Homo sapiens: one gene and its partners. The protein of the gene in region 4 purifies or fractionates together with the protein of the main gene of each other region. This does not show direct contact. Each region holds a gene or a part of one and is shown on either strand. Other genes may lie near its edges.

The links.
Region 1: the proteins of LANCL1 (region 4) and ALDH16A1 purify together in Homo sapiens (affinity purification with mass spectrometry; 4 studies listed by BioGRID and IntAct, with this or other methods). This does not show direct contact.
Region 2: the proteins of LANCL1 (region 4) and MYO7A purify together in Homo sapiens (affinity purification with mass spectrometry; 3 studies listed by BioGRID and IntAct, with this or other methods). This does not show direct contact.
Region 3: the proteins of LANCL1 (region 4) and FIGN purify together in Homo sapiens (affinity purification with mass spectrometry; 3 studies listed by BioGRID and IntAct, with this or other methods). This does not show direct contact.

The regions. Positions count from the first base shown.
Region 1 is NC_000019.10:49,448,265-49,456,444, forward strand, and holds the start of ALDH16A1 (aldehyde dehydrogenase family 16 member A1), read left to right. Parts: upstream 1-4,960; 5' UTR 4,961-5,067; coding exon 5,068-5,157; intron 5,158-6,649; exon of another isoform or gene 6,650-6,670; coding exon of another isoform or gene 6,671-6,673; intron 6,674-8,180. Other genes in the region: PIH1D1 (PIH1 domain-containing protein 1), read right to left, coding at 1,211-1,390, 2,518-2,584, 3,221-3,310.
Region 2 is NC_000011.10:77,180,067-77,187,914, forward strand, and holds part of MYO7A (unconventional myosin-VIIa), read left to right. Parts: intron 1-307; coding exon 308-415; intron 416-1,313; coding exon 1,314-1,523; intron 1,524-1,884; coding exon 1,885-2,088; intron 2,089-2,357; coding exon 2,358-2,534; intron 2,535-3,001; coding exon 3,002-3,091; intron 3,092-4,521; coding exon 4,522-4,649; intron 4,650-7,848. UniProt on the Homo sapiens protein: Myosins are actin-based motor molecules with ATPase activity. Unconventional myosins serve in intracellular movements. Their highly divergent tails bind to membranous compartments, which are then moved relative to actin filaments.
Region 3 is NC_000002.12:163,732,598-163,740,292, reverse strand, and holds the start of FIGN (fidgetin), read left to right. Parts: upstream 1-4,284; 5' UTR 4,285-4,455; intron 4,456-5,220; 5' UTR 5,221-5,365; coding exon 5,366-5,390; intron 5,391-6,351; exon of another isoform or gene 6,352-7,695.
Region 4 is NC_000002.12:210,438,398-210,446,245, reverse strand, and holds part of LANCL1 (glutathione S-transferase LANCL1), read left to right. Parts: intron 1-3,546; exon of another isoform or gene 3,547-3,704; intron 3,705-4,802; coding exon 4,803-4,938; intron 4,939-5,501; coding exon 5,502-5,648; intron 5,649-7,848. UniProt on the Homo sapiens protein: Functions as a glutathione transferase. Catalyzes conjugation of the glutathione (GSH) to artificial substrates 1-chloro-2,4-dinitrobenzene (CDNB) and p-nitrophenyl acetate.

The DNA of each region.
Region 1 (8,180 bases), on a different chromosome or scaffold from region 4:
GTGATGTCACTAGAGTTGACCCTATCCCTTCCCTGCTCACAGCTCTTCTCTGGCTCCCCAGTGCTCCCAAGTGAAGGTCTGAGCCCCACAAGCCTGGCGTTGGAGACCCTATGTGGTCTGCCCCTCCCACCTCTGGAGAAGACCTCATTCTTCTAGCAACCTCGGCCCACTGAATTTCTTTCAGTCACTCTCCATTACTGGCTGATCCAATCCAATCATTCTCTCCCAGCTCTGGGCCGCTCTACCTAGAACCTTCTTCTGTCTGCCTGCTGAACTCCTCCTGTTCCTTCAAATCTTATCCCACACCCCCTCCTCCAGGAAGCCTTCCCTGACCCCTTCATGTGGGTGACGAGCCCTCTCAAGGCTGTGCTGGGTGCCCCCCTCCAAAGCAGCGTGAATCACACCCTATTGATACTGCATCCATCTCCTTGAGCCCCACCCATGACAGCGAGTTTCTGGAACGTGGAATGTGCATTTCATAGGTCCTTATTCCCCGGGGCACTGCCTAGAGCTTGGTCCCAGAAAGCTTCAAGAGACATATTGAAAAAAGGATATAGAGGCAGAAACAGGGACAGAGGTGAGGCAAGACAGAGATGGAGAAAGGGAGAAGGGCAGAGGAGAAAACAGGATGAAAGAGAGAGCCGCAGGCTGGGTGCAGTGGCTCACACCTGTAATCCCAGCACTTTCGGAGGCTGAGGCGGTGGATCACCTGAGGTCAGGAGTCTGAGACCAGCCAGGCCAACGTGGCGAAACCCCGTCTCTATTAAAAATACAAAAATTAGCTGGGTGTGGTGGAGCACACCTGTAATCCCAGCTGCTTGGGAGCCTGAGACAGGAGAATCGTCTGAACCTGGGCAACAAGAGCGAAACTCCATCACAAGAAAAAAAAAAAGAAAGAAAGAAAAAAGAAGGAGACAGCAGGCTCAGGACTAAAGCCAGGAGATCCGCTAATGCACGAAGAGCACTCTGCCCAGGCCTCCCGGCCCTGGAGTGGGGCATGGAAAAGTGCCAGCCTGGCCAGGTGGCAGAACCAGGACTGCCCGGGTGTGGGATGTCCAGGGCACTAGAGATCTACCATAGGGAAAAGAATCAGATCGAGGGGCCAGATCTCCAGGAGCTGAGGGAGGAGGGTCCTGGGCCCAGGATTCTTGGGTTCTAGGGAAGAAGGGGCCTAGCGGGCCAGACTCCTGGGTCCTCTGAGGGCACTGACTTGCATCCAGTTCTGCATGAGGCTCTCCCAGACTCATGGGGATGCGAAACCCAGCTTGGTCCTCCTCTAGCATCTGAAGCAGCTCCTCCTCGGTCACGTCGGCGGGAGGAGGGATAGAGGGGGAGTGGCAGATGTTGATGAAAACCTTCCCTTCCGAGGAGTTGGTCTTTATGCAGAAACCTGGTGGGAGTGGGTTAGTCATGACAATCCTTTTCTGCACAAGTCCCAGTCCCCATCCATTGTCTCCAGGCTCTGTCTCTTTTCCTTTTGCCCTGTCCCCCTTTTTTGTTCCACTCCCCACCCGAGATCCCTCACTTCTCTTTTTTTTTTTTTTTTTTGAGACAGACTCTCACTCTGTCACCCAGGCTGGAGTGCAGTGGCGTGATCTCGGCTCACTGCAACCTCCACCTCCCAGGTTCAAGCAATTCTCATGCCTCAGCCTCCCAAGTAGCTGGGATTATAGGCGCCCACCACCACGCCCGGCTAATTTTCGTATTTTTAGTAGAGATGGAGTTTCACCATGTTGGCCAGGCTGATCTCAAACTCCTGCCCTCAGGTGATCCTCCCGCCTTGGCCTCCCAAAGTGCTGGGCTCCCGGCCCCCTCTCTTCTTTGTTTTCTCCTTGTTTGTTTTTTGAGACAGGGTCTCACTGTGTCACCCAGGTTGGAGTGCAGTGGTACGATCTTGGCTCACCGCAGTCTCTTCCACCTGGCTCAAGTGAGCCTCCCACCTCAGCCTCGTGAGTAGCTATGACTACAGGCACGCACCCACCAAGTCCAGCTAATTTTGTTTATTTTTAGTAGAGATGAGGTCTCACTATGTTGCACAGGCTGGTCTTGAATGCCTGGCCTCAAGCAATCCTTCCACCTCGGCCTCCCAAAGTGATGGAATTACAGATGTGAGCCACTGTGCCCAGCCTCTCTTCCTATCTTTGTTGTTGTTGTTTGTTTCGTTTTGTTTTTGAGACAGAGTCTCGCTCTGTCACCCAGGCTGCAGTACAGTGGTGCGATCTCCACCCACTGCAACTTCTGCCTCTTGGGTTCCAGCAATTCTCCTGTCTCAGCCTCCCCAGTAGCTGGGACTACAGGCACGTGCCACCGCACCTGGCCTCTTCCTATCTCTGATTCTCTGGCCCCCTACCTACTCCTACTCTGTCCTCCAACTCCTTTCTGTCCTAGGATGATCTCTGTGGGTGTCTGCTCACCCCACCCCCACCCTAGGCCTTTATTTTCGTGTCTCTTTCCTTCCTCCTCTCTCTGTCCTCTCCCTGGGTCTCCTGTCCCTCTCTCTCCGGTGTCCTTTCTCACCAGGCTGAGGCTGGATTTGTGTCGATTCTGGTCTGGTTGTCTGGGCTTGCTGGAGCTCCTTCGAGGCCTGTATAAAGGAAAACTACCTCCAGGCTCGGAGTCTGTGCCATCAGACCCCTCATTTGTTCCTCAAATGGAGCAATTCTTATGCATGAGAGCTGTGGATAACGCGAGAAATTAGACGGTTTAGGTCCCCTTTCTCCTTTGAGAACTAGAAGAACAACCCCAACCCCATTCCCATTTCTTTTTTTTTTTTTTTTTTTTTGGAGACGGAGTCTCACTCTGTCGCCCAGGCTGGAGTGCAGTGCCGAGGTCTCGGCTCATTGCAAGCTTCGCCTCCCGGGTTCACGCCATTCTCCTGCCTCAGCCTCTCCAGTAGCTAGGACTACAGGTGCCCGCCACCACGCCCGGCTAATTTTTTGTATTTTTAGTAGAGACGGGGTTTCACCGTGTTAGCCAGGATGGTCTCGATCTCCTGACCTCGTGATCCGCCCGCCTCGGCCTCCCAAAGTGGTGGGATTACAGGTGTGAGCCACCGCGCCCGGCCCCCCACTCCCATTTCTTAGCAAACTTGAAGCCCATTAACCTCAATTCCCCGAGGCCTGGTTCCCGCCTTAGTGCATTCTGGGAACTGCAGTCCCATCTTTGAGCACCCCGCCAAAATCCCCGAATACTCAAGGATCCAGGGGTCCGGTCACTGCACCTGCAGCAGCAGCTCCTCAAATCGCGCCGAATCAGCACCGATCGCCTCCGCCTCGCTTAGCCCCATTCCCAGCAGCTTCGGGTTCGCCATGGCCCTGGGAAAGAGATCTAGGCGTCCTCGAGACCCTCAACGTGGGAAACTTTGCCCAGGATCCGAACCCCAGTGCCTGCTCTGGCCCTCAATCGACTCCGGATACCTACTATCCTGTTCAAAAACCTAAGACTGGCCTAAGACTACATTTCCATTCAAGACCGAACACCATCGTCAAATCCGTGGGGAATATGTGTCTCTAGACGCACTACCCTCCGTCCTACGTGCCGAACTGTAAACGAAGCCACACTTCCGGTCTATCGGTAAACACAGGACTGGAGTATGCCACACTTCCGAGTACCCCAGTGTTCATTCACAAGCTGGTATCGCGTTATCGACAAGCCACGCCCCTCGCATCAATCAAAAATAAACCCCAAGGCGGATCCCTGAGTGCCACACTTCCTGTATCTATGAAAGCCACACTTCCGGCTGGGCGCTGTGGCTCCTACCGGTAGTCCCAGCACTTTGGAAGGCCAGGGCAAGAGGATCGCTTGAGGCCAGGAGTTCGAAACCAGCTTGGGCAATACAATGAGATAACGTCCCACACCCCATCTCTTAAAAAAAAAAAAAAAGCGCCAGACTTCCACTCTTTCCACAACCAAAACTGGCCCCCTTACTTTGCAGTGAAGGTTGCATTTTCCAAACCTTAATCTCAATGTCCATCCTAAAAGGTACCCTTTTTATCTTTGAATTATCACTTCCTGCCAGCTCTAGATCCTAATACGTCCAGATCTAGACCCGCCAGGTCTAGATCTAGATCTAGACCTCTAGTCAATATAATTAGAAAAGCTGCACTTTGAGGCTGGGAGGCCGAGGTAGGAGGATCGCTTGAGCCCAGGAGTTCGAGACCAGCCTGAGCAACATAGCAAGATCCTGTCTCTACCAAAAAAAAAAAAAAAAAAAAAATTAGCCAGGCTTGATGGCACCTGCCTGTAGTCCCAGCTACTGTGCAGGCTGACGCAGGAGTAATGTTTAAACCTGAAAAGTCGAGGCGACAGTAAGCCGTGATCGGACCACTGCACTCCAGCCCTGGGCGACAGAGGGAGACCCTGTCTCAAGAAAATAAAAGGTAAAACAAAACCTGCACTTCCTGCTACTATAAAACAAGGCACTGGGAAGACGCATCAATAGGACGACCCTTTTTTTTTATTACTATTTTTTTTTTAGACACAGTCTCCCTTTGCCACCCAGGCTGGAGTGCAGTGGCGCGATCTCGGCTCACTGAAACGTACACCTTCTGGGTTCAAGTGATTCTCCCGCCTCAGCCTCTTGAGTAGCTGAGATTACAGGCGCGCACCACCACAGCTCGGCTAATGCTTGTATTTTTAGTAGAGACGGGGTTTCACCAAATTGGTCAGGCTGGTCTCGAACTCCCGACCTTAGGTGATCCGCCCGCCTCGGCCTCCCGAAGTGCTGGGATTACAGCCAAGAGCCATCGTGCCCGGCCACGCCGATCCTCATAAATCCGGAGCCCTCCTAACTATTCGCAAAGTACCCACATCGCCGTCTCCCCTTCCTCCCCGTTTTAAGCAGTGCGCATGCTCCTAAATACGCTTCCCCGTGGGGGACGTAGGCGGGGCCATCGGGTCCTAAGGAAAAAGTGTGGGCGTGGCTGCTCTCTGTATCTTGTAGCCCCACCCCATTCCCATTAGCCCCGCCCCTTTGGGCTGGAACCGGAGGTGTCGCTCTTCGGACCTCAAGGTTCCCCTTAACACAGAGCGCCCCGCAGTCTTCGCGGAAAGCGTTCGGGGTAGGCGATGGCTGCGACGCGTGCAGGGCCCCGCGCCCGCGAGATCTTCACCTCGCTGGAGTACGGACCGGTGCCGGAGAGCCACGCATGCGCACTGGTGAGAGTCTGCCCGGCCGGCGCTGCTCGCTGCGTTCCCCAGGCCTGGGCGCCCGGTTTTTCGCGGGGAGTCCCGTCATCCACTGCGGTAGCTCAGCCGCTCCGCCTCTCTTAGTCCCCGTGATTCCCGCCGCCCAATAGGATCGCGCCCTGTAGGACGCTCCCTTGAGCCTTGGCGGTGGCAGCCTTTTAGTCTGTTCCGGTCTTCCCCACTGGTTCTCTTGCCCCTTGATCCTGAACTCCTCGTAGTGTTTCCGCGGTTTTCCTGAACTCCTCTAGACGCTCTCGTGATTCCTCAGGGTCCCCTCAGAACCTGACGCCACCCACCAGACCCCTTAGGATTCCTGTGAGGCTCCAGTGACCCACAACCCCCATTGTCTTTCCACGACTCTTCAAAACATCCTATGGCTTCCATGGGCCTCCAGAGCACCCCAGACCTCCTGAGGGACTCCCTTCATCCCTTTGATTACCCAGAGACCTTCAGAACTTCCATGGAGCCCCCGTGATCCCATAGGACCCCTCAATACTCGTGGGGTTCATGTGACCTCATCGGAACTCTCAGGAGCCTAGAATACATCAGGACTTCCGGTTTGGGTTGGGTTTTTTTTTTGTTTTTTTTTTTGAGCCAGGGTCTCACTCTGTCGCCCAAACTGAAGTGCACTGGCGCTATCACACCACTGCAGCCTCAACCTCCTGGGCTCAAGCCATCCTCTCACCTCAGCCCCCCAAGTAACTGGGACCAGAGACGCGCGCCACCACTCTCAGCTAATATTTGTACTTTTTCTAGAGACAAGGTTTCAGCATGTTGGCCAGGCTGGTCTCGAACTCCTGGCCTCAAGTGATCCACCCACCTCGACTTCCCAAAGTGCTGGGATTACAGGCGTGAGCTACTGCACCCAGCCACATCAGGACTTCCTGTAATTACTTATGGCCCCTCACAATACCCTCACGGGGCTCCTATGATCTCTCTAGCTCTCAGAATGTCCCATAGGGTTCCCATGATTGTTCAGGAACCCCTGAAGTCCTCGTGAGGGTCCCATGATCCCCTGGGGGTCCTCAGAACCTCCCTAGGACTCCCATGACCCCTCAGAGGCCCCCAGAACCCTCGTGGGGTTCCTGCAAATGAGTAGGGCACCTCAAACTTTCTGTCGTTTCCCCAGGCACTCTCAGAATTCCTTCACGGGGCTCTCATGATCCCCCAGGGTCCCCCAGCACCCAGGCGAAAGGAGCTTAGGCTTCTTTGAGGGGGAGGGCAGGAGGCCAGAGCAATGATCCAAGTGGAAGGAACTGGATCAGAACCCTGGCACAGCCTAGAACTTGGGGAGGCCAAGACGGGCAGATCGCCTGAGCTCAGGAATTCGAGACCAGCCTGGGCAACATAGTGAAACCTCGTCTCTACTAAAATACAAAACATTGGGCCAGGCGTGGTGGCTCAGACTTGTAATCCCAGCACTTTGGGAGTCCTAGGTGGGCGGATCACCTGAGGTCAGGAGTTCGAGACCAGCCTGGCCAACATGGTGAAACCCCATCTCTACTAAAATACAAAAATTACCTGAGCGTGGTGGTGTTTGCCTGTAATCCTAGCTACTTGGGAGGCTGAGGTGGGAGAATTGCTTGAATCCAGGAGGCAGAGGTTGCAGTAAGCTGAGATTGCACCACTGCACTCCAGCCTGGGCAACGGAGCAAGACGCTGTCTCCAAAAAAAATACAAAAATGGCTGGGCGCAGTGGTTCACACCTGTAATCCCAGCGCTTTGGGAGGCCGAGGCGGGCGGATCATGAGGTCAGGAGATCGAGACCAGCCTGGCCAAGATGGTGAAACCCATCTCTACTAAAAATACAAAAAATTAGCTGGGCGTGGTGGCAGGCACCTGTAATCCCAGCTACTTGGGAGGCTGGGGCAGGAGAATCGCTTGAACCCAGGAGGTGGAGATTGCAGTGAGCCGAGACCACGCCACTGCACTCCAGCCTGGGCAACAAGAGCAAAACTCCATCTCAAAAAAAAAAAAAAAAAAAAAAGGAAACAGAAAACAAAAGATTAGCCGAGGATGGCAGCACACACCTGTAGTCCCAGCTACCCGGGAGGCTGAGGTGGGAGGATCACCTGAGCCTGGGAGGTGCAGTGATCATACCACTGAACTCCAGCCTGGGTGACAGAATAAGACCCTGTCCCCCCTGAAAAAAAAAGAAGTTGAGGCCAGGCAAGTGGCTCACACCTGTAATCCCAGCAGTTTGGGAGACCGAGGCAGGAGGATCACTCGCACCTAGGAGTTTGAGACCAGCCTGGGCAACATGGTGAGGCCCTATCTCTATTAATATAAAAATAAAACATAAAAAGTGAAGTTGAGACTTGGACTTGAGTCCTTGCATTTCAGACCCGTGGTCTTGCCTACACCAGCAAAGTTCTCAACCGTACAGTCTCTGGGCCAGACTCAACCAACAAACATGTTTTCTTTGGCGTGAACTTTATTTTTTTTTTATGTGAAATGCTGGACAATTGATTCCATGTAAACATCCGGGAGGTCCTCTTGAAAATAAAATTCCAAAATGTGTCAACATTTGGCTCAACTTCCCTGACAAAAGTCATCTGGGACCAATAGCTCCTGTCTTTTCCATGAATCGTTAAGCTCCTCTTCTCATCCAGGCCCTCTTCTCAGGCCTCCTGGAACCCTCTGGACATTCTTTTGGAATTTTGTTTTTCTTTTGGGGGGAAGCTTTCCAACTTGCACAGAATAATTAGCATTTATTTTGAACTCCTGTTTACCCATCACTGTGCCTCAACCATCATCAACATTTATCCCAGCGCTGTTTCCTTCTGTATTTTCTTTGGAGTAATTTAAACAAATCCTGGATGTCACAGTATTTTCCTATAAATATTTGAATCCTTTCTTCTAACAGATAAGGGCTCATTTTGTTACAAAACTACCATGGTCTGTTACCACACTTAACATTAAGTCATTCTTTTTGTTTTTTGTTTGTTTGTTTGAGACAGGATCTTACTCTGTCGCCCAGGCTAGCATTCAGT
Region 2 (7,848 bases), on a different chromosome or scaffold from region 4:
TGCCTGCTCTGAGGAGTGCACATACCTGGGACCAGACCCTCATTTCCATCCTCTCAGCCAAGGGCAGGGCTGGGACCTCAGTCACTCTTGGGAATCTCTGGGAGACCGACGCAGATCTGGCCGGGCTTTAGGATCAGTGGTGCCTCCAGCCCGCTGGGTGACCTAGAGAATTTCTTGATTACCTCACTTGTCCTATCAAAGTCATGCCCAGTTCCAGAACTCAGAGTTGGGTGGGTGGAGCTGGTGGGAATCCCTGCAACAACAGCTACACACATTTCCATGCCCTCTGGATGCCCCCTTCCCTCAGTATCTGTGGCGCCTCGAGGCTGAGAAAATGCGGCTGGCGGAGGAAGAGAAGCTTCGGAAGGAGATGAGCGCCAAGAAGGCCAAGGAGGAGGCCGAGCGCAAGCATCAGGTGAGCTGAGAGCCTCCAGGCACCTTAGGTGTCCACTTGCTGGCTTGTCCCCTCCCCGAGGCTGGCTTCTCATCTGTCACCCGGTGCTGCAGCCTTCCTTCCATCCTTCAGAATGGCCACACTAGACCCACTCAGCCAGCATTGCCTGAGCTCTCGCTGGGCACCTGGTCCTGTGCCATGCAAAAGGATGAAGGGCTGTGGTGGCTCCAGAGGAAGAGGCCCAGGCCCTCAGCAGCCCCTTTCTAGTTGTTGAGATAACACCCTGGTAAAAGCACAAGCCAGCTGACGGCACGAGGGTGCTACACTGCCCAATAGAGAGCCACCAGCCACAGTGGCAACTGAACACTTGCAGTGTGGCCTGTCCGAATGACACAGTGCTTTAAGTGTGAAATACTAGATTTTGAAGATTTGGTGGGGGAAAAATGAATATAAAATATCTCAGTATTATTTTTATAATATGGATTACATGCTAAGTTAATATTTGGGAAATATTGAGTTAAATATACTGCTAAGACTAATCCCACCTATTCCTTTTTGCTTTTTAAAACGTGGCTACTATATGGGTGGCTCACATTGTATTCCTATTGGGCAACACTGGTCTAGAGCCTCAAGCCAATGGCCGTGGGATGTCTGGGTTGGTGTGGTCCCCATGGAGCAGGCTCCTGGAGGAGGTGGCTCCCTGAGAGCCCTGAAGGACGGGCAGGATTGTTATTTGGCTTGTTGAGAGGCCTCTGAGTGGTCCAGAGGTGGGGAAGTCAGAGGCTCCATTCTTCCCAGCGGTCAGGAGGTGGGGACTGAGGCCCTGGCTGCTGCAGGGGCTCCCCAGGGAGAGCTTGTTCCCTGAGGCTGTGGCACCGGGGGCTGACCCCGTGTCTTCTGTGTCACCCCAATTGCCCAGGAGCGCCTGGCCCAGCTGGCTCGTGAGGACGCTGAGCGGGAGCTGAAGGAGAAGGAGGCCGCTCGGCGGAAGAAGGAGCTCCTGGAGCAGATGGAAAGGGCCCGCCATGAGCCTGTCAATCACTCAGACATGGTGGACAAGATGTTTGGCTTCCTGGGGACTTCAGGTGGCCTGCCAGGCCAGGAGGGCCAGGCACCTAGTGGCTTTGAGGTACCAGGCTAGGGACAGGGGCTCCAGAGGCCCACACACACCGCTTGTGTTGATCCTCCCTCCTTCTGTGCCCTTGGCCTTAAAGCCCACCCAGTCCCTCTGAACAGTGGGGAGCAGAGATGAACTGGGTCCGGGCTGCAGGTCCCAGGTCCTGTCCCTCTCCAACGCCCTTCTCAAGTTTTTTTTTTTGTTTTTTTTTTTTTTTTTTTTTTTGAGATGGGGTCGTACCCTGTTGCTCAGGCTGGAGTGCAGTAGCGTGATCACAGCTCACTGCAGCCTTGAACTTCTGGGCTCAGGCGATCCTCCCACCTGAGCTTCCTGAGTAGCTGGGACTCCAGGGCATACCTCTTGTCTCCTTCAGGACCTGGAGCGAGGGCGGAGGGAGATGGTGGAGGAGGACCTGGATGCAGCCCTGCCCCTGCCTGACGAGGATGAGGAGGACCTCTCTGAGTATAAATTTGCCAAGTTCGCGGCCACCTACTTCCAGGGGACAACCACGCACTCCTACACCCGGCGGCCACTCAAACAGCCACTGCTCTACCATGACGACGAGGGTGACCAGCTGGTAAGGCCTGCCTGTCACTAGGTCACTGCTGGGTGGGGCCAGGGCTGGGGCTATGGACTCTGCTGCTGGTGGTGGCCGTAGGTGATGAGGGTGGTGGGTCCCTGGGGGCCAGGGACCAGGTCTGACTATAGTCTTCACTGCGGTGCCCAGCCTGAGGGCTGACCATGCGGGAGGGGGTGTCTCCAGCCCACTCCCCAAACCGCCAGGTCATTTTGACAGCTTTAGCAATGTCCTCCGCTCTGGCCTCTGACATGCGCGCTCTGCCCCAGGCAGCCCTGGCGGTCTGGATCACCATCCTCCGCTTCATGGGGGACCTCCCTGAGCCCAAGTACCACACAGCCATGAGTGATGGCAGTGAGAAGATCCCTGTGATGACCAAGATTTATGAGACCCTGGGCAAGAAGACGTACAAGAGGGAGCTGCAGGCCCTGCAGGGCGAGGGCGAGGTGAGGCCAAGGTGCCCTCTGGATGATGTCCCTCCCAGGCCGACAAGGAGGGCCGCTGGCATCACCAGCCTTGGGCTCCTCTGCAGAAAAAGGATCCTATAATTCATCTCTGCCTCACCGACCCCTGCCTGCCACCCTCCTTTGTCTACTTGTGGGAACAAATGTGTGCAACTTTTATAAACTGTAAAGTGCTGACCATAACTGAGGGGCCTCATGGCAGAGCAGACAGGGGCTTTGCAGTTGGAGCCAGCTCCCGTACTATGTTTTTCTGAGTCTCAGTTTTCCTGACTGCCAGTTGGCTAGTGGGGGTGCAAGGGTAGGGGTGAGCAGGTGGACGGTGGCAGTGTGGGGGACACCCTGTAAGCTTCACGTGGAAGCGAGACGGTTCCCCGCAAAGTCTTGCTGTCGGGGGTCTCGACATTGCTTTCTGCTCAGCCACTTGACCCTGATCCCTGCTGGTCCTGCAGGCCCAGCTCCCCGAGGGCCAGAAGAAGAGCAGTGTGAGGCACAAGCTGGTGCATTTGACTCTGAAAAAGAAGTCCAAGCTCACAGAGGAGGTGAGGGCAGACGCTGGGGGTCTGGCAGCCCAGGGGTGGCTGCCTTAGGTGGCCTAGGCTGGAGCACAGCTGAGCTGGGGGCCCACGGAAGCAGGAGCAGGAGTGGACACTGTCTGTCCTCAGGGGTCTTGGCTGGCCAGGGACAGGACAACATGAGTGGGTTGGTGGGCGATCAGGCAGACAGGAGTGTCTGAAGAGGGTGGGATCTCAGGCCGGGGGTGGGAAGGGCTTCCTAGCAGAGGGCACTGAGCAGGGGAGGCCGGTAGCGGCACAGCTGAGAGGGAATACACTTCTAGCCGGGCACAGACCCGAGGCACTTGGTCCAAGGACCTTTGAGGCATGGGAGCTTTCTGTGGAACAAGAGTGCTCATGGAGCATGAACAGGATTAATTTATTTGAATTCATTCTTCAGTCACTTTGCCTTTTCTGGGCACTGTCCCAGCCCTTGTGCTCTGGGGTTGTCCAGGCTGGTGTGTGTGTGGCAGGGGAGGATACACTGGAGAGGCAGACACAAACCAAGGCATTCACAGCCTTGGGGGCCAGGCCCCCATCCCCACATTTGCACATGCCAGTCCCTCTGCCTGAAACTCCTCCTTTCTCTGCCTGGGGTCACCTCCTCCAGGAAGCCTCCCCAGCTCCTCCACTGCAGAGTCAGGGGCTCCCACTTCACCTCTGCCCTTGTCCTGTCCCCACCTGAGGCACAAATCCAGCCTTGCAGGTGTGTGGCCTCAGATTTGAATCCCACCTCTGCCGCTTAGTATTCAAGGGACCCAGGGAAGAAAATGCCCACTCCGTGGGGTCCTGGGAAGAAGGCAGAAATGGCAGCCGAGGGTGTTCAGTGGTGCTCCCTGTCTGCACCACCCACTCCTGCCGCTCGCCTCTCACTCACCCTACATCCTCTGGGCAGAGCTCGGGGCTTGTGCTGTGGGCTGTGTGGGATGAGAGAGGAGAAACATCTCATAAGAACTGGTGTGAGGCTGGTCACATCGGGGCTAAGGGTGTTGGTGACAGAGTGGTGGTGACTGGTGGTTGGAACCTGGAGTATACTCCAGGTGCCACAGTTATGTTGGCGGGGGCACCCCAGAGAGATAGGGGTCCCGCTTGGAGTCAGAGGATCATGTCCCTGTCCTGGCTGAGAGGACCTCCCTGGGGTGGGGTGTGGGGTGCAGGGTATCGAGGAGGTGGCCAGAGGAGCTCTGTCCCCAGAAGTGGGTGGCACCGGGCCAGTGTGCCCCTGCTGTGTGGGCCAGTTATTGGCCCAGCATCTGCTGTGCACGTGGCAGGGGTAATGACAGTGATGGGGAGCCCAGTTCTTCTGCTCACTCCTTAGATTCTGTTTTCTGGGGAGCAGGCAGCCTCGGGTGCTGGTGCCCTGGCTGGCAGGGGAACACCCCTAACTTTACCTGCCCTGTCCTCTCCCTCTGGCCCAGGTGACCAAGAGGCTGCATGACGGGGAGTCCACAGTGCAGGGCAACAGCATGCTGGAGGACCGGCCCACCTCCAACCTGGAGAAGCTGCACTTCATCATCGGCAATGGCATCCTGCGGCCAGCACTCCGGTCAGTGCCGGGAGGCGGGGACACCAGGGCCTGAAAGTCTTTTGGTGGCTGAGTGGTGCCTCTGTCAACCTAGCAAGAGATTAAGCCAAGCAGGCCTGGGTTTGGCTTCGCTGCTAGCTAGTTGGTGGAGTTAGGACCTTGGTGGAGTTATTTCATCTTTCTAAGCCTCTGATTCCTTGTCTGTAAAGGGGGAATCCTAAAACAGGCATCCCTTGGAGATATTGCAGGTTCAGTTGAAGGCCACAGAAATAAATATCACAATAAAGAGAGCTGCAGAAATATTTTGGTTTCCCAGTGCATATAAAAGTCATATTTATACTATACTATAGTCTATGAAGTATGAAATAGCATTATGTCTAAAAAATGTAGACATCTTGATTAGAAATTAATGCCAAAAATGCTAATGGTCATCTGAAAGTTGTATCTATTTGCTGGAGGGTCTTGCCTTGATGTTGATGGCTGCTGACTGATCAGAGTGGTGGTTGCTGAAGGTCGAGGTGGCTGCGACAATTTATTAAGATAAGACAACAGTGAGATTTGCTTTCACACAAAATTTCTCTGTAGCATGCAATGCTGTTTGACAGCATTTTACCCACAGTAGAACTTCTTTCAAAATTGGAGTCGATCCTCTCAAACCCTGCTGCTGCTTTATCAATTAAGTTGATGCAATATTCTAAATCCTTTGTTGTCATTTCAACAATGTTCACAGCATCTTCACCAATAGATTCCATCTCAAGAAACCACTTTCTTTGCTCCTCCATAAGAGGCAACTCCTCATCCACTGAAATTTGATCATGACATTGCAGCAACTCAGTTCCATCCTCAGGCCCCACTTCTCATTCTAGTTCTCTTGCTATTTATTTCCACCACATCTGCAGTTACTTCCTCTTGAAGTCTTGAGCCCCTCAGTCATTCATGAAGTTTGGAATCCACTTCTTCTAAACTCCTATTGATGTTAATAATTTGACCTCCTTCTACGAATCATGAATGTTCTGAATGGCACTGAGAATAGTGAATACTTTCCAGAAGCTTTTCCATTGATTTTGCCCAGATCCACCAGAGGAATCACTATCTATGGCAGCAATAGTCTTATAAAATGTATTTCTTAAATAAGACTTGAAAGCCAAAATTACTCCTTGATCCATAGGTTGCAGAATGGATGTTGCATTAGCAGGCATGAAAATAACATTCGTCTCCTTGTACATCATTTTTTTTTTTTTTTTTGGAGACAGAGTCTCACTCTGTTGCCCAGGCTGGAGTGCAGTGGCGCCATCTCAGCTCACTGCAACCTCTGCCTCCCGGGTTCAAGCAATTCTCCTGCCTCAGCCTCCCGAGTGGCTGGGACTACAGGTGCCCACCACCACATCCAGCTAATTTTTGTATTTTTAGTAGAGACGGGGTTTCACCATGTTGCCAGGCTGGTCTTGAACTCCTGACCCTGTGATCCACCCACCTCAGCCTCCCAAAATGCTGGGATTCCAGGTGTAAGCCCCTGCAGCCAGCCTCTTGTACATAATTTTTAAGAGCCCCAGAATTTTTGGAATGGTCACTGAGCATTGGCTTCAATTGAAAGTCAGCAGTGCATTAGCTCCTGACAGGAGAGTCAGCCTGTCTTTTGAAGCCTTGAAGCCAGCCATTGACTTCTCTCTAGCTATGAAAGTCCTAGATGACATCTTCTTCCAATAGAAGGCTGGTTCATCTACATGGAAAATCTGCTGTTGAGTGTAATCACCTTCATCAATGATTCTAGCTAGACCTTCTGGAAAACTTGTTGCAGCTTCTCCACCAGCACTTGTTGCTTCACCTTGCACTTTTATATTTTGGAGACAGCTTCTTGCTTTGAACCTCATGAGGCGATCTCTGTGAGCCTCCAACTTACCTTCTGCAACTTCCTTACCTCTCTCAGCCTTCATAGAATTGAAGAGACAGTCTTCCTCTAGATTAGGCTTTGGCTTAAGGGAATGTTGTGGCTGGTTTGATCTATTCAGACCCCTAAAATTTTCTCCATATCAGCAAATAAGGCTGTTTCACTTTCCTATCATTTGCATGTTCACTGGAGTAGCATTTTTGATGTCCTTCAGGAACTATTCCTTTGCATTCACAAGTTGGTTAACTGCTTTGCACAAGAGGCCCAGCTTTTGGTCTATCTCGGCTTTCAACATGCTTTCCTCTCTAATCATTTCTAGCTTTTGATTAAAAGTGAAAAATGTGCGACGCTTCCTTTCACTTGAACACTTAGAGGCCATTTTAGGGTTATTAATTGGCCTAATTTCAATATGAATGTGTCTCAGGGAATCAGGAGGCGTGAGGAGAGGGAGTGAGATGGGGGAATGGCTGGTTGGTAGAGCAGTCAGAACACATCTAACATTTATCAGTTAGGTTTGCCATATTCTATGGGCACGATTCATGGTGCACAAAACAATTACAATAGTAACGTTAAAGATTAGTGATCACAGATCACAGCAAATATAATAATAAAGTTTGAGATATTTCTAGTATTGCCAAAATGTGACAGAAACGGGAAGTGAGCACATGCTGTTGGAGAAATGGTGCTGGTAGACTTGCTCCATGCAGAGTCGTCATAAACCAATTTGTAAAAAATGCAATGTCTGCAAAGTGTAATAAAGTGAAGTACAGTAAAATGAGGTGTGCCTGCAGTAGCTACCTCATACATAGGCTTGTGGGAAGATAAAGCTATGAAAACTGTGTAGCACCAGACCTGGAGCATAGTAAGCGCCCCGTAGATGGTAGCTTTGATCATCATCATCCAACATGCATTTCCTGCTTTAACCCCGCTGCCGCCAGCTCACCTCCAGTCACCCACCCTAGGCCCACGGTTAAGGTTACTGTGCCTGGGAATCCTGCAAGTACCTCCTTCCCCACAGGGCCAGGAGAGGCCTTTACCCAGGTCCCTGGGGTTTTGGGGAGTTGAAGGGAAGACCCAGGAGTCACCAGGAGCCACCAAAAAATCAACTCAGCTGATGAGAGGAGGGCTAGGACTTTTCTGAGAACAGTCTCTGCATAGGACAGGTCTGTCGGGAGAGCTGATGCCATGAATGTGTGCATGCTGGTTGGGAGGACAGCAGGATGAGGCAGGGACCAAGCCCCACTTTCCTGATGGGGAAACTGAGGTCCAGAGTAGGGAAGAGATTTGCCCAGGGGTCACTAGGCCTCCTGCCTCCTATCAGGCCCCCGTTTT
Region 3 (7,695 bases), about 47 Mb from region 4:
CCATCACAGGATTTTCCAGTTTGTCTCTACTGTAGAGCTAGATCACTGAGGAGATGTATGAACCACACTAATATCCTTTGACAGTACCTGCATTTGAGTGTCATTCTGAGCAAATTGAGTAATTTTACTCAATGAGGTCATGATCTTCACTAGCTTTTGTGGTTTTTTTTCTTTCTTTTTTTCTTTTTTTTTTTTTAGGGGAAAGGGTGGTACATAAGGACTTCTTAGTAACTTTATTGAAGTGAAAATCATGACCCTTATACTGCAATTTTATGGAAGCATTAAAAAATTATCTTGTCACTAATTTGCATTATTGTAAGAACTACCTCAGATTTTTGTGAGTAATATGAAAGAAAAAGTCTAGTTTCATAAACAGCTACTAAGTTCTAGAATGTGTTTTGAAACCCAGGAGTTTGGAAGAATATATTATTAGTTTAATGTTTTATTAAAATATTTAACATTTAAGTTCAAAACTAAAAAACAATATTTGAAAAATTAAATTGAATTGCGTTTAGCATTTTATGAAAAACTATACATGATAGCCCTCCAAACTTCTTTCCTTAAAGCATCTTGTGACCTACATCTCCCTCATCTTTTCTACCCGCTGTCTACCTTCTGCCTCCACTGATTTTTTTTCCTTTCCTTTCCTCTCCCATCACTTAGGTAAAGCACATCTCTGTGTCCAGCCTAGCTCATATTTTCCTTAGTCCAGTGCAGACAAGTCTATGGTCATTTGCAAAATCACATTCAGTATCACTTTGCTTATTCCCTTAACCTTCACTTTTGTTGTTGTTGCTTACATTATTTTGAGAAGAAAAAGCAGAAAAAAGTAGAATTCCCCTCTGAATTATCTTGAAAGGAAGGCATACACACACACACTCCTGAAGAAGAGTTATGTTGATTTTTCTTCTGATTTTCTTAAAAAGCACAAGTTTGAGTATACTGTGTATTAGAATTTCACATATTAGTCAAAATGTTATGCATTATAATGTCTGTGCATTTAAAAAGTAAAATAGAAAGAGAAATGATATTGCTAATAGAGTGGGAAAAATTAGTCAAATTTATTATTTTCTGAAATAACTGTTTCCCTGACTAGCCAATCAACTTCCTTTAAACACTCAATATTTAATTCTCATGTTATATCAAGAAGTTTCAAAAGATATTATAGAGATGGATGTCAGCTACAGCCAGAAACATTTCTTTTGATTAAAAGTTTTGAAGATAAATGCATACAGAATATGATGACTGTTAAAGTGCTTTTTAATCATACCACATAATTAAAGATAGTTTTATTAAAACAACAAAAACTGAACATCGCAAACAATGCCATGAATCTCTGTGGAAAAGAAAGTCAAGTTTTATTTTCCTTTGCTTAAAATAATTGGAGAAAAGCAACTTTTACCTATACTTAAAAAAAAAGGGAGAAATAGTGCAATGACGAACTCTCCTGTGTATCTTATTATTATGGAAGTCCCATAATGTATATTCTATTATGTAAGTGTCTTTTATTCCCAGAGTATATGTAATTTTGAACAATTTAGAAACTCTGTACCTCTATCCAGTGCTCTTTTGAACAGTTTTCCAATTATTTGATTCCAAAGTTAATTATATTTATTTGCATGTTGAATGATTTTTTTATAATGTGTATTTCAAATGAATCTATAAGGGAATTGGAAAGGTACAGTTATTATCTATTAATAAACTCTTGCTGACCACACTTTTTCCTCCTCTTTTTAAAGAGCAGGGGTTGTTTTATTTTAGATATTACAGATGAATGGCTTTAAGTCTGTCATCAAAATACATTGTTTTTATATTCAGTGGGCACTGTATTATATATTTTATTCACTATTTGAATTTACACAAGGAACTGTAAATTCAACGCTAGGATTTAATGTTAAAGGTTGATGAGCTCTGAACTTTTTTAACAAACAAGAACAGAGCAGTTTTGCCCGAATTGCACAGAGCATCTGCTGTGTGTCCAGAGGACTTTTGGTCGTCATTCCCCAAATGGGCAATAACTGCGATTATGAGCGCTTCACAGTTTTTTTTTTTTTTTTTAATTCATCTGTACTCAATCCAACAGTGACCCACAGATATTTCCCTACACTTATTTCTTTGTGGTAAAATCCAATGAACAACTTTTCGTAATATCATTTTCAAAGCCATCTTGTAAAATATAACTAAAGAGGTTTCAGTGTTCTCTGTTACATCAGAATAAAGTTCTTCTGTTTTATTTCGAAGACTCCTTTTTTAAAAAATTCACAGAAAGGTCAAATCCATTCCAAATAGAAATCTCATTGCTTAGAAATATTTCTTAGGATCTCGAATCACTCTTTTTTTGTCTTTTAAATTCTGTCATCTGCCTAGATTTAACTGAAATAATTTTTATTTCTCAGTGTGTTAGCTAAAGGCATCCATTCAAAGGTAAGAACATCATAAAAGGTGAATGGAATTAATTTCAAAGTATATATTTGGCATTTTTAAAGAGCTGCATTTCAGCATCTGGAGAGCTGCAATTTAGGCTATCAAATCTACAACAGAGAAGCTGGGGGAAATGTGAACACCCTTATGAGGAGGGTCAGTCCTCAGCAAGTGCATTTTCGGTTCCAACCTTCAAAGGTAACATTTTCAGCTTGATGGGCTCCTGGTGGAATATATAATTTGCCTCTTTCATTCTTAGCTTCGTTGAAATATAGAAGACTGGATGTCTACCAGGCCAAAGTATAAACTCACCATTTATCTATTAAAGTCATATTTAATGAAAACGAAGAGAAATTATGACCCAATTCACTCTCTTTCTCATTACAATTCCTAAAGAACTTTGCCGGGCACATTATCTCGTAGACATCATGATCAAATGTTATTGTTTGCTTTATTATCTCAGTTGGATGGTTGGCTAGTCTAGAATGAAATAGGTTGAAGGCAATACTCTCAGCCTAGAAGTCTGAATGAGGTTCCCATTCAAATGATCCTGATTGTTTGCGGGTGGGGCGGGGTGATTAGTAAACCAACTGAGCTTACACTGCATAGTAAGCGTCTGGATGCCGCACATTTACATCTAACAAGAGACCCCAGAAAACGTGTGTGTGTTTCTTAAACCTTATGTTCCGAACAAAAGGCTATCTCAGCAACAGACAATCAGCACTGCATTGCTCCCTGGGATGCGAGCAACACACTCAACTGCACATTTCATTCTTCCTCGGCTCCCAGCACCACAAAGCCCCTACTCTCTTCCCACTCCTGGGTCCCCAGATTACTCCATAGAGGGGGGTTGGGAAGGCAGAAGCCTAACGTCTATGCCTGCGCACCAGCCGCCGACACCAGGGCCCCCCGGGCGCTGCTTTCTCCAGCCCGAGCCGCCTGGGGGAGGTAGGGAGGGGAGCCAGGGAGCGCGAGAGGGGACCGCACACCTAGACACTTAGGATTTTATTTATTCACAGGGAGGCGGGGGAGGGGAACTGGGCGAACGCGAATTTTCTCCCCGAAGTTGCCTCTTCTAAGCAGATCAAGTCGTTTTCTGGCTGGTGCTGGGGGCCCCGGGGAGGGTGCCGGTGAGGTCCAGGCTCTCGAGACCAGATCCCGTCCCGTGCGCAGAGGGGGTGGGGAAGGGCGGACGGGCCGCAGCTGTCGAGAGGGCCGGGAACCGGCAGGGAAGAGCCCGCGGGCCGGGGAGCAGCGCGGCTCTGTCCCGGGCCCTCCAACGCAGGCCGGGGAGCGCAGGGGCCGGCTGGTCACGCGTGGGAAAGAAAGCCCCCTTCCCCCTACGGCGCTGCTCCCCTTTCCCCAGGCTGGGCCGCCAGAGAGTGCGTGCAGGGAGAGCTGCGAGTCCCCGCGCGCGTAATCATGACCTCGGGGCCCCCTCCGGGCCGCGTGAGCGCATCGGCGAGGCTGGGCGGCCGCCGCGGCCCCGGCCGTGTAACATGACCCGAGCGGCCGGCCGGCCGGCGCGGCGCGGCCATTGAGCCCTCCCTGCCCATGAATCTCTGGCGCGTCTCTAGCTCGCTCGCCGGCTCGCCTCCCGCCTCCCTTTCTCCCCCTCCAGCTCCGCGGGCTCCGTGCGCCTCTCCCTCTCCCTCCTGGTCCTCCCGCTGCCCGTCTCTCTCCACTGCCCGCCTCTCGCCACTGCCTCCCGTCTTCTCTCCCTCACGGCAGCCTCCGTCTCTTTCTCCCTCTCTCCTTTGAAAACTGATCTTTGGCTCTTAGTGTGAAAGTGATTTGAATTTGGCTCTGCGGCGCTCTGCGCCTGCGCCCAGCCTCTGGCATGCTGGCTCCTTCCAAGCAGCTGTTTTGGGTTTGAAATTCCAACATGGCAGAGGCTGCAGTCCGTCTTCCCTTCAAAAACTTGGAATGATTTCAAATCATAGGCACCTTCACTTAACCCTAGCTTCCATTCATCAGCAAACACATCGGATCGATGCTACGCTAACCTATCGGGTTCTCTCTCCGCGCGTTCAGGTAAGAGGAGCTTCGTAGTTTTCTACCATCTGTTTAAATTTGTTTTTGTTTTATTTTTAAAGAATATAAATACATCCAAGACCTGTAATTAAAAGAGATCTTCAGTTGTGCCGTAAACATTAAATTCAATTTCCACTCGTTTCTATTCTGTACGCCAACCTGCTGTCTAATTTCTCTGTTCAAAGTAGCCCTGAAACATTATAATGCATATTTTTGCTGCTTAATCATTGTAACAATAGTATGGGATTAAGAGTTCGCGATTGCAAGAATCTCGCTTTTCGCTATATTGGGCTTACTTATTACTATCTTTTTACTTCAAAAATAAAAAAATAAGAAAGCGGAGCCATAGGGTGGGGCTAGACTTTCTTCGGGAACTAACTTCTAAGTAAATAAGAAGTGTAAATAAGAATCTTGCACACACACAAAAAGTTGAGGTTAAATTACAATCTCGTGGCTGGGGGAACGAGAAAATGTCAGAAGATCGGTTGCAGAAAAATGTAAGCACATCATCTAGGAGGGGGTACAGCGTGGTGGGCGTATTGTTGGCAAGGAACGGGAGAGAAAGATGTATAATTTAATGGTATATACAATCCACTGATCCTATTACCGTCCTCCCCGGAGCTCTTGTTAGTTTCAATGGGAGTGAGTGAAATTGACATGGACTTGCATTCCTGGTCATGTGCTTTTTTTCCTTTCTTTCTTCTCCTGTGATCTGAGATCCCCTTTTTGTTGATGTTGCTTTCCCCCTTAATTATATGCATGTAGGTTAAATGAATACCTGACGAAAGGGCCCACGTTTCAAGGCAGTGACATTTGATAGCTGAGAGGAAAAGTGGCTTTAATGAAAAGCAACCTTTGGAATTCCTGCTTGTGAGAAATCCAATTCAGCTTTTTGTGCTGCCAGCAAGAAATGATCAGTAGCACCAGTGTTTATGGTATGTCAGTTTTGGAATTTACTTCCTTTGCATCTAAATAGGAAAGACAAATGAAATAGCATGATAAAACCATTGAAGACTGCCTGGCAAGCAGTTGCTCATGATATAGAATTCCTTTTTTTAAAAAATATATGTTTAATGTCACCATGCTTTTTTTTCTTTTGCTATCACTTGTTTGTATATTGCAGTTTTGATTAATATATTACTTGAATCCACTTTTATCGGTTTTAGCTGTCATCCAGAAGTTGCACGTTACTAGTAATGCACTATATATATATAACTGCTGAAGTCAAATAGTATGTAAATTAGTTAAACTCAGTGTGGGTTTTTTTTTTTTTTTTTTTTGAAGGAGGGAGGCTGGGCAAAGGGGAGAGGGCAGGAGTGTTGGGAAAGATTACTAACTAATGAAAGTGTATCTATATATATGTACACACACAGGAACAGGACTGGATGAAAATTTTATTTTTCTCAATCTATTAATGCAGTTTGACTATCTGCTCTTGATGTTTGCACTTTGTGGAGTAATCAGTTCTTCTGAGTGTGGTTTTTTTTTGGGGGGGGCGGGTAAGTGAAGAGGTGTCTTTTACATGAAAATAAAAATTATATTTTGATTGTCCAAAGTCCTTGATGTCTTTTAAAGAGTAGGGATAGGTTTTTCTTCCCCCTTTCCATTCACTCGTCTGCCTGTCAGCGCTTTTTACTTTTAACTTGTGACAGAATTAAATAATCAGGCACTGAAATTGACTTCGTTTGAAATCGCTCTTTCCTTTCTTTACAAAAAAAAAAAGTCAGTTAAATGGAGTGAGAGGGGATTTTCAATAGCTCTTGTGGCAGTGCCCTGTGTACACTTTGTAATATTCAATTAAGACAGAGGGAACAACAACAACAAAAAGATGTTAAAGTATTTTGCATAACCAAAGGATATGTCCACTTTAGACTGTTTTTTTTTTTTTTTTTTTTGGTTGTTGCTATGTTTACCCCATGACCGTTAATTCCTCCTGAAAAGAGAGAAAGAAGGAAAGAGAGAATATGAAAAAAGAAATAACAGTGGGGCAAAGCTGCCAGGGGTCTGTAGTGTGGCCGTGGTCACTGCTCTCTCCTAACACAAATGTGAATACGAAGAGAGGAACTACAAGACCCGTTGCGCGACATACACGTCTGGTTGGACTCTGGTGACTATTGAGCTAAATACACACCACACTTACACGATAGGAAAGATTTGATTGAATTTTGCATTTGGAACTTGTTGACTTTGAAGCGATCAATAAGAAGACTGTTTATTTTAGATGCACATAATTTGCCCTGAGAAATGTTTTAAGGAGGAGAGAGCACAGCTTTTTTTCCCCCGGAGCTGTTGGAGCGAATGGGATTGCCAGATGGGCGATTTCCCTCTGTGATGTTAAAGCTGTAATATATATTCAGAGCAGATTGGGCTGCTGCCTGTGATGAGGAGGATATTACATTTATAAATTTTAAATCGGAGCTCGGACAATGTGCTGAGAGCAGAAATTGGATGGTTTGACTGTTCACCGTATTGATACTTAAATGTGATTTCTAGGTAGTACTAATAATAATCATTGCAATAATTCATGAAAAACATACTGGCATAGGCAATTATATAATTCATGACATTTAACAGCAGATTTGAGTGTGTAAATTGCCCCCCTCTTAAGTCTCTGCTTACTATTAAATAATAGTCACATAATTCATTTCCCTATGTTTAAATGTCCGATGTGCAAATGATGTTAACTTAGGAGCCTTGTTATCATATATTAGAATTCTAGGGGTGAAAGTTTACATACATATATATAAAGTAGACACTTGTGTATATGTATAAAGTGGCGTTACTGGCTCTTGTTTTCTAATTCTTTACTCTGATTATTTTTAGATTTTGTTTGTCTCAAATGTGCGGCCTAAAGGAACCAGAGCTACAAACCTAAAAGACTAGAAAGTGGGCAAGTGCTCACACTCTGGCAGCTCTGCTGTTGCAAATTAAAAGTGTGTTGTGGTCAGGAAATGAAAGCTACAATGTCTCTTTTGAACAAGTCGTTTATCAAGAGAAACATCTATCAGGGACTGCCTTGTCACATTGATCCTCTAAAAGTTAGGTCCGAGGTGGAAGCTGCTTTGATGTTTTTGATCCTAAATTTAATACAACAGAAAAAAAGCAAGGATATTTTGACCAGTATAGATTTTTAAAAATGTTTCCTGGAACCAACAAGATCTATTTATTAGGATTTCACTATGTGTGAAGTTTTCTGGACGTAACAGTTGAAAGGTTGAAGGGGAAATCCCAGACTTTATA
Region 4 (7,848 bases):
GTCCCAGAGGGCACCCGCCAGATGCCAGCCGGAGCTCTCTTGTATGAGGTGTCTGTCGACCCCTGCTGGGAGGTGTCTCCCAGTCAGGAAGCACAGGGGGGCAGGGACTCACTTGAGGAGACAGTCTTTCCCTCAGCAGAGCTCGAGCACTGTGCTGGGAGATCCACTGCTCTCTTCAGAGCCGGCACGCAGGAATGTTTAAGTCTGCTGAAGTTGTGCCCACAGCCACCCCTTCCCCCAGGTGCTCTGTCCTAGGGAGATAGGGGTTTTATCTGTAATTCCCTGACTGGGGCTGCTGCCTTTTTTTCAGAAATGCCCTGCCCAGACACTGGACATCTGTTTTTAAAGTTACAAACCTTTTGATAATACAAGGCCAAAAACTCTCCCCAGTAACACCCTGAGGAAGTACTGTGAGGAGAGGAACAGAACTATCCTGTTTGTGTGTCTTCATTCTTCTTTCAGTGACATTTCAGTGACTTGGCTATCTCTTCTAAAGATGGGTTGCATTAATATCAACATATCAAAACAAATAAATGAAGCTGCAACAAAGTGCTTGTTAGTTTGAGAGTTTCTGAAAACACATAAAATAACCATTATGATTTATCAGTGATATCATTTCTTTATTTTTATATCTTAATATAAATATTTTATTTTTAGTCTTATATCTTGAGAATATAGCATGTACAACTTGCAGTTAAGTCCTAGTAATCATCGAACCCAACTAATGAATTTTAGTGATTTGAATTCAAATCCAGAAAAAAAGGGATATGCTTCCTTTATTACCCTAAACTGTATTGTTTTAATAAGATGCTCTGAGCAATACTGTATTTTAGATAAATATTTGAAAGGTATTTGCTACCTACTTTGAATGTTGCAAATGCAAATGTGTTTGGCTGCAAAGTAAATGGAATGCTAATTATATATTGCCACCTAGTGGTAATGTATGTCCTAACATCAGCAAAAAAGGAATGGAGTTAATGCCGTGGTTCAAATATTTTATTTCAGTTGGAATATCATTGGAATCAATGCAGTAATTCGGTGTAATACTTCCATAGAACAGTATGTGTTTAAAAAAAATTACAGTAATTTTTTTTCATAGTTCTTTCAATCTTTGCAAAAGTAAGTCAAAAGTACTTTATATTGAACTTCTATATAATTTGACACATTTATATTAAAAATAGGTTCATATCAAAACTTGAGATATTCATTGTTTACTGTAACAGTTGAATTTGTATCTAATAAACACATTTTGTTTTCTTATGGCCCCAACGTTACTGAGCTCCCAGTTCTGGAATGAGAAAAAAAATTCTTAATAAATGTTTTTATTAAAAATTTAAAATTCGTATTCAAAAATTAAAAATTACTTTTAAAAATTAAGGGAGTGTGTGTGTGTAGATATATATGGTATCGAAGTAGAAAACAAAATGGCCCATAATTCTATCCATAAGCCCTATTGTTTTAAAAAAGGTCAAAGTATACAAGAAAATGTATTAGAAGAAAAAGGAAAGAAACCTCTAGCCAAGTTTCTTGGTTATCTATTTCTCAGTATATCTCTTCCTAAGATAACCACTGTTTCACTATGAATTGTTGCCTATATTTGTAGAAGAAAAAAATGGATGAGCCAGCATTTGCATATTTAACTAATTTGAGTTGCCTCAATTTGATGAGGAAATAATATGAAAAAGTTTAAACTGTTTCACTAACTGCAACTAGCCATGCTTTTTCAACCCCCACTTTCCTGCAGTTCCCTTAAAGACTCCTTCATAAGTTTCTCTCAGTCTTTCTTTCATAACTGTCAGCCACTTTCACTCACTAAAATCATCTCATTCTGCTTATTTAAAACCTATCCTCTTCATTTTAAATGTTTTCTCCCCCCTCACCACAAGCGTGTGGAAGTAGTGGAGAGGGAGATGGGAGAGGAAGATTGTTCTCTTTCATATCTGCCCTCCTTGCTGAGCTAGGATGTTTTCACTCACTGTATCTATAGCCTGGTGGTAACAATTGTTAGGTTTTTGTTTGCTTGGGATTTTGTTTGATTTTGTTTGTTTTTGTTGTACATATTGGTGGTCTCCAGAGACTGGCAGTAAAGGCTGTAAACCCCCTCAGCTCTACCCCTACCTTCTGAGTATGTTCAAATGAAAGCACAAGTGGGTGCCCAATTCTGCCAACTGTGCAAACACTTTAGGAAGAAGATACTCTTTAGACACACATACATACATACATACAGTCTCCTACCCTGTTTTTGTAGCTCAGAGAAAGTCACATTGCCCTCAAGCCCTTCTTAGACTTTATTCATCAAAGAGTGGGAAAGCCCGTACCATCTTCCAAACCTCCAGCCCATCTTTACCACTCATTCCACCAATGAAAAACCATTTTCTATCATTCCTTAATAATAACAAATTCTCTGGTGTAGATTTTGATAAAGTTCCTATATGAAAAAGAGGCACTTCAGTGCTGAGTACCTCTGAGTGTTGACTCCTGCTTAGAGTACTTCAAATACATCACTTTGGGGCGGGGGTTGGAGGGACCTGATGTTTGTTACTTCAAATGCTAATTAACCATCCCTAGTGTATAGACTGAAGTTAGATGACAGACATGCACAGGCACGGCACACTGCTTCTGCTTAACTACTTTAAAATTAAATTTCCATATAGATAAACACGATAATTTCTAAACTGGAAGGGACTATTTATTTCACAGATGAAAAATTTTAAGAACAAAGATTTAGTGTCGAAAGCTACCTGATAACATTTGTTAGGGCTAATGTCGTCTCATTACTACTTTCTTCCAGAGTTTCATTGGCTCTTTGTGCTAATATCATTTTGTTAAGTTTCACCAAAAATTAAAATGTTTTAACTTAAATAGGATCATATCAAATTTATAGGCTAATTTAGGGATGATTGAGATGCACTTCAAAATTTCATGTGACAAAACATCTAAAATAGCAAGGACATTTTTCTTCCCTATCATATTTGCTGCCCACTCCCCTCCCCCCAAAAAGGGAACATTCTCAGAGGTCAAACTACCAAAGATGGTTACTTTCCTAAACTGACTTCCCTCTGTGATCTTCTCCCCTACTTGCTGGTTCCTGAGGCTTCCCCTTTTGGTCTCTGATGAAAAGGGTGGGGCTTTGATGACCCTGCTGTGCCATGTCTATGACTATGCATGCATCTGGGGCCAGGTGATGTGGAGGACAGAGAAGTAAAGCAATGGGGGCTTATAACCCCCTCCTAAGACTGCAGTTCCTCCAATCTGTGGGGAAATTTCCCTCCCTCAGAGTTTAGGCTCCCAGGGCTCCCCTTGTCTTCGCACCTGCTCCCAGCATGAGATTGCTTTGTAGCTTGGGGCACAAGAGAACTGAGAAAAGGAAAATAAAGAAAAATGGAGGGTTAACCCATTCTCTCTGATATTAGGAGTTCTCTTTGTTCAGACAGCACTAGAGGGCTTCTTCTGGGTCTCTATAAGCCTACTTGTGCCTACTTTTGGGTTTTGTGCTGTACTGAGTTCAGACCGGGGAATACCAGAGAGAAAAAATGGTAAACTCACCATTGGTTTGGTGCTACTTCAGATTCCTGTCCTCTTCCCCTTTTTGCATGTTACTGTTTGCTTTTCAGAGACCTCAAATAGCTGCTGTATCCTGTCCAGGTTTTAGAGCCACATTTTGAGGGAGACACAAGGTGCAGAGCATGCTTGCTCCATCTTACCTGAAATCAGAACTGAAAGTAACTTTTTCTGAGAAGCTCAACTGAGTCTATCCGTAGGGATTGAATGAACTATAATTCAGTGGGGTTCTATGCAAGTATTACAAAGAATGTGACTACTCTGTGTGCTGTTATGGAACCATTGTCAAGATGTATTGTTAAATAGCAAGCTGTAGAATATTTATACATATGTATATTTATGCTTATGTGTACATAAAATCTAGGAATACACACAAAAAAATGGTAACCATGGTGATTTCTGAGGAGAACTAGAAGGCTGGGAGACTGAGGAGATGGAGACCTGACTGACACCTCTTGTACTATTAATATTTGCATGTATTGGCCAGTTGCAGTGGCTCACACCTATAATCCCAGCACTTTGGGAGGCTGAGGCAGGCTGATCACCTGAGGTCGGGAATTGGAGACCAGCGTGACCAACATGGAGAAACCCCGTCTCTACTAAAAATACAAAATTAGCCAGGTGTGGTGGTGTGTACCTATAATCCCATCCCCTCGCGAGGCTGAGGTAGGAGAATCACTTAAACCTGGGAGGCGGAGGTTGCGGTGAGCCGAGATCACGCCATTGCACTCCAGCCTGGGCAAGAAGAGCGAAACTGTCTCAAAAAAAAAAAAAAATGTACATGTATTATTGACTGTGATAGATGAAACCTACTTCAAGTAGGCCTGGTGACACATTAAGAAATAAACCAAGGAAGGAGATGATGGGCCATTTGAGTGTTGGCTTAGTCCTTTCTCTGGGCTAAATGCCCTAAAAGCCAGCAGTTCTTGGCTTCTTTGACCCCAACTGCTAAAATACTCACCTTAGGGCCTGCCTCCATGAGGAACTAGGGAGATTTCAGATAGCCTCAGCCATACATTTGTATTCTTTCATTTTATGAATGTATTTGTCAGTTCCATTGTTAAGTGAAGAAATTTAATGGAGGGCTAATCTGTGAACCGTGACTGTTCTATAAATAGATATTATATATGTATAAATACATATTTTGTGTGCATGTATATTTTTTTCAATGTACCATTTTTAAGTATACACCAATACCTGGTTCCTTTCAAATTATTTGGGGCATGTATTTTTATTTTTAGGCTAATTCACCTAAATAAGATTGATCCTCATGCTCCAAATGAAATGCTCTATGGGCGAATAGGCTACATCTATGCTCTTCTTTTTGTCAATAAGAACTTTGGAGTGGAAAAGATTCCTCAAAGCCATATTCAGCAGGTACCACGTTTTTGTGTTTTTAGGAGCCTTTTTAGGATCCCATTTACTTACTATCTGCCTAAACTATTGTTTATGTCTCTGTAGTTAGCACATTCCATATAAAGGAAGGTGTATCTGGACCTCTAAAGGTTGGGCACAGTCCAAGAACCAATAGCTTTCTACGGAGTGCTGTTGGAAACATTTCTGTCTCAAGAGTCCGAAGGCCAGTCTGCTCCATTTCAGAATTTAGAGGCCCTCTCCAAAGAGGATTAGAGCCAAATTTCACCTCCCAGATGGAGGATCTCCTTTGGTGGTGCCTAGAGGAGTTTATGCTTTTCTTTGACAGGCGAACTCTTGTAAACTGTAATGCAAAGAGCTCAAGATCCTCTACGCCCTCCCCCTTCTAGGCTAAATACAGTCCCACACACTTCTCTGATGGAGAATTAAACTGTGCCTTTCCCTGGCTATAAGCTGGTGTCTAATTTGTCATGTTCCCCAGTACCTCTTAGCAAAAAAGTCTTTACCTCCTCCAGGAAGATTTTTGTTCAGTTAACTTGTTATTTTGGTTGGTTTTCTCCCTGTAGATTTGTGAAACAATTTTAACCTCTGGAGAAAACCTAGCTAGGAAGAGAAACTTCACGGCAAAGTCTCCACTGATGTATGAATGGTACCAGGAATATTATGTAGGGGCTGCTCATGGCCTGGCTGGAATTTATTACTACCTGATGCAGGTAAGGAGTGATTATGGTGAAATTTTAAAATGTCCTTCCTGACCCATGTACTATCATGGGTGAGAAAACAGATATTCTAGTTCTAGTTTGTCATTCTGTCAACCACTGCATTACAGTACTCTCCTTGTAATTACTTGTCCTAGACAAACAAAAGTAATGTTTACGAAGGTGCCTTTAAAAGTGTATAAACATTAAAGGCCCTGCGTTTTAAAATGATGTTTGATTTGCAGGTGATCGTGCTTGCCCACTTAGTGCCACTTGTGCAGACTAAAGTGTTTTGACTTATAATTCTGTATGAAGTGCCTCTGCTCTGCTCTTTCAGCCAGTGCTTTGAATTAAAACTATTATTCCACATTAAAAGGTACAACTGATTCCAACAAATTCCAGGAATAAGAACAAAATCAATAGAAAACAAATGAGCACTTGTTGCCTAATGCTCACTTAGAGAGCAAAGCTGAGGAGACTTCTACTTACCTGAAAAACAGCTGAATATGCTCTGCCCTACAGTTCTTGGGATCTAATACTATTGGGGCACATCAACCAAAGTCAAATAGACTAAAGACAGATAGAATTTACTGCAGCAGACATAACTTGGGAGAGATCAGAAGAGGACTTCTCAGGAGAGCATCATTTTGGGAGACTTACGAAGCTCTCCTTAAGGAGAAACTGGCACTTCTGAATAAGAATTCATGGCAAAGAAAATTGATTTTTAATGGCAGCAGAGGTACCCCTGTCACCTTCCCAAGGCACACTGTGGCATAAAGAAAAGTGTTTCATTAACGTGTTCAGCAGGAGTGCTTGGATATACATACTACCAGCTCTTTGAGTAGCTGGCTCTTATAATACAAGATCAGTGTTGGACCTGCCCTCTACCTATAAATAAACAAGGACAACAGAACTGAAAAACTCAAGATTATTATTATTTTTGAATGCAGAGTCACACATTGAGTGTTAGTGGCAATCAGAGACTAGCGTATTTATTCTACACTTTTCAATTAGAGGTTATATAATTAGGATGTTGACATTTAGACTTAAATTTCTTTATTTTTCTGGTGCATGTCTTCCTCTCTATTCCCAGTAGTAAATGTAGATTCCTAAAAGCTTTCAGGAAAGAAGAGTCTTCTGAAGTTTCAAGGTTAGTTAGAATCAAACATACTAGAGGCCCTCTCCAAAGAGGATTAGACAGCCTTATCGAAATTTCATTGAAACAAATAATCAGGAGACATAGTTGGTTAGTGACTAGACAGCCTCATCAAACTTTCATTGAAACAAATAATCAGGAGACATACTCTGCCTCCTTGTGTTAGCTGTAGTAAGAAATCTGAAAACCCAAGTATTGATTTTTCCATTTGCAGGTTATCATCTCTTTGAAATGATTTAATTTTTAATCCTGAAAGTCTATTCTAGTAGGTACGCCTTCATCAACATAAAATAAAACATCATTATTTTTAGGCCATGTTGGGTAATTCCTGCAAGTTTGAGGAGAGTCCACTCATTCTACTGTAACACTCTGAGCTTAAATGCTATTCTTTGTATGAAATGAAATCTGCCTTCTAAACAACTCAGTCCACTTTCAGAATCTTGTGGAAGTCATATTGTCAGCATTGCTTTGACCCCACCACGACCGCCTCCTGCCTGTGCTTCACACCACTGCCCACCCCTCACCACCACATGCCCCACACCTTGCCTAGTGAAACAGCACTTTGAATCTGTTAAAGACATTAGCAGTCATTGAATTAAGAACAGGACCAAAAGGAGAAACTAAAATGTGTATCAAAAATGGTGGCTCATATGCTGTATGTCAGTATGTCCTATGGATCTGTACGTTGTTATGTCAAAATAATGTGGCATTTAGATCAGTCCTAAATCCTCTGCAAAAAGACTTGATCTAGAGGCATGCTGTAGTTTGGAATCTAGATTCCAGGTCTCTTAACTTGTTAGTATCCTTTTTCTATTGAAAATACCACCTATCTCTTCTCTAAATGTAATAACGAAAGTCATGCTTGGTTTGTCCAGTGCATCTCTTTGTGACTTTTAAAGCTTGTTTTATATATTGAAACCATGAGAAACTTCTCTTACACTCACATTCATAGGCATTGACTTAGGAAAATTATTTATATGTATGTAGATAGCAATTAATATTGAAAAACAATATATACAAAATGCCGAGCACAGTGGCTCATGCCTGTTATCCCAGCAC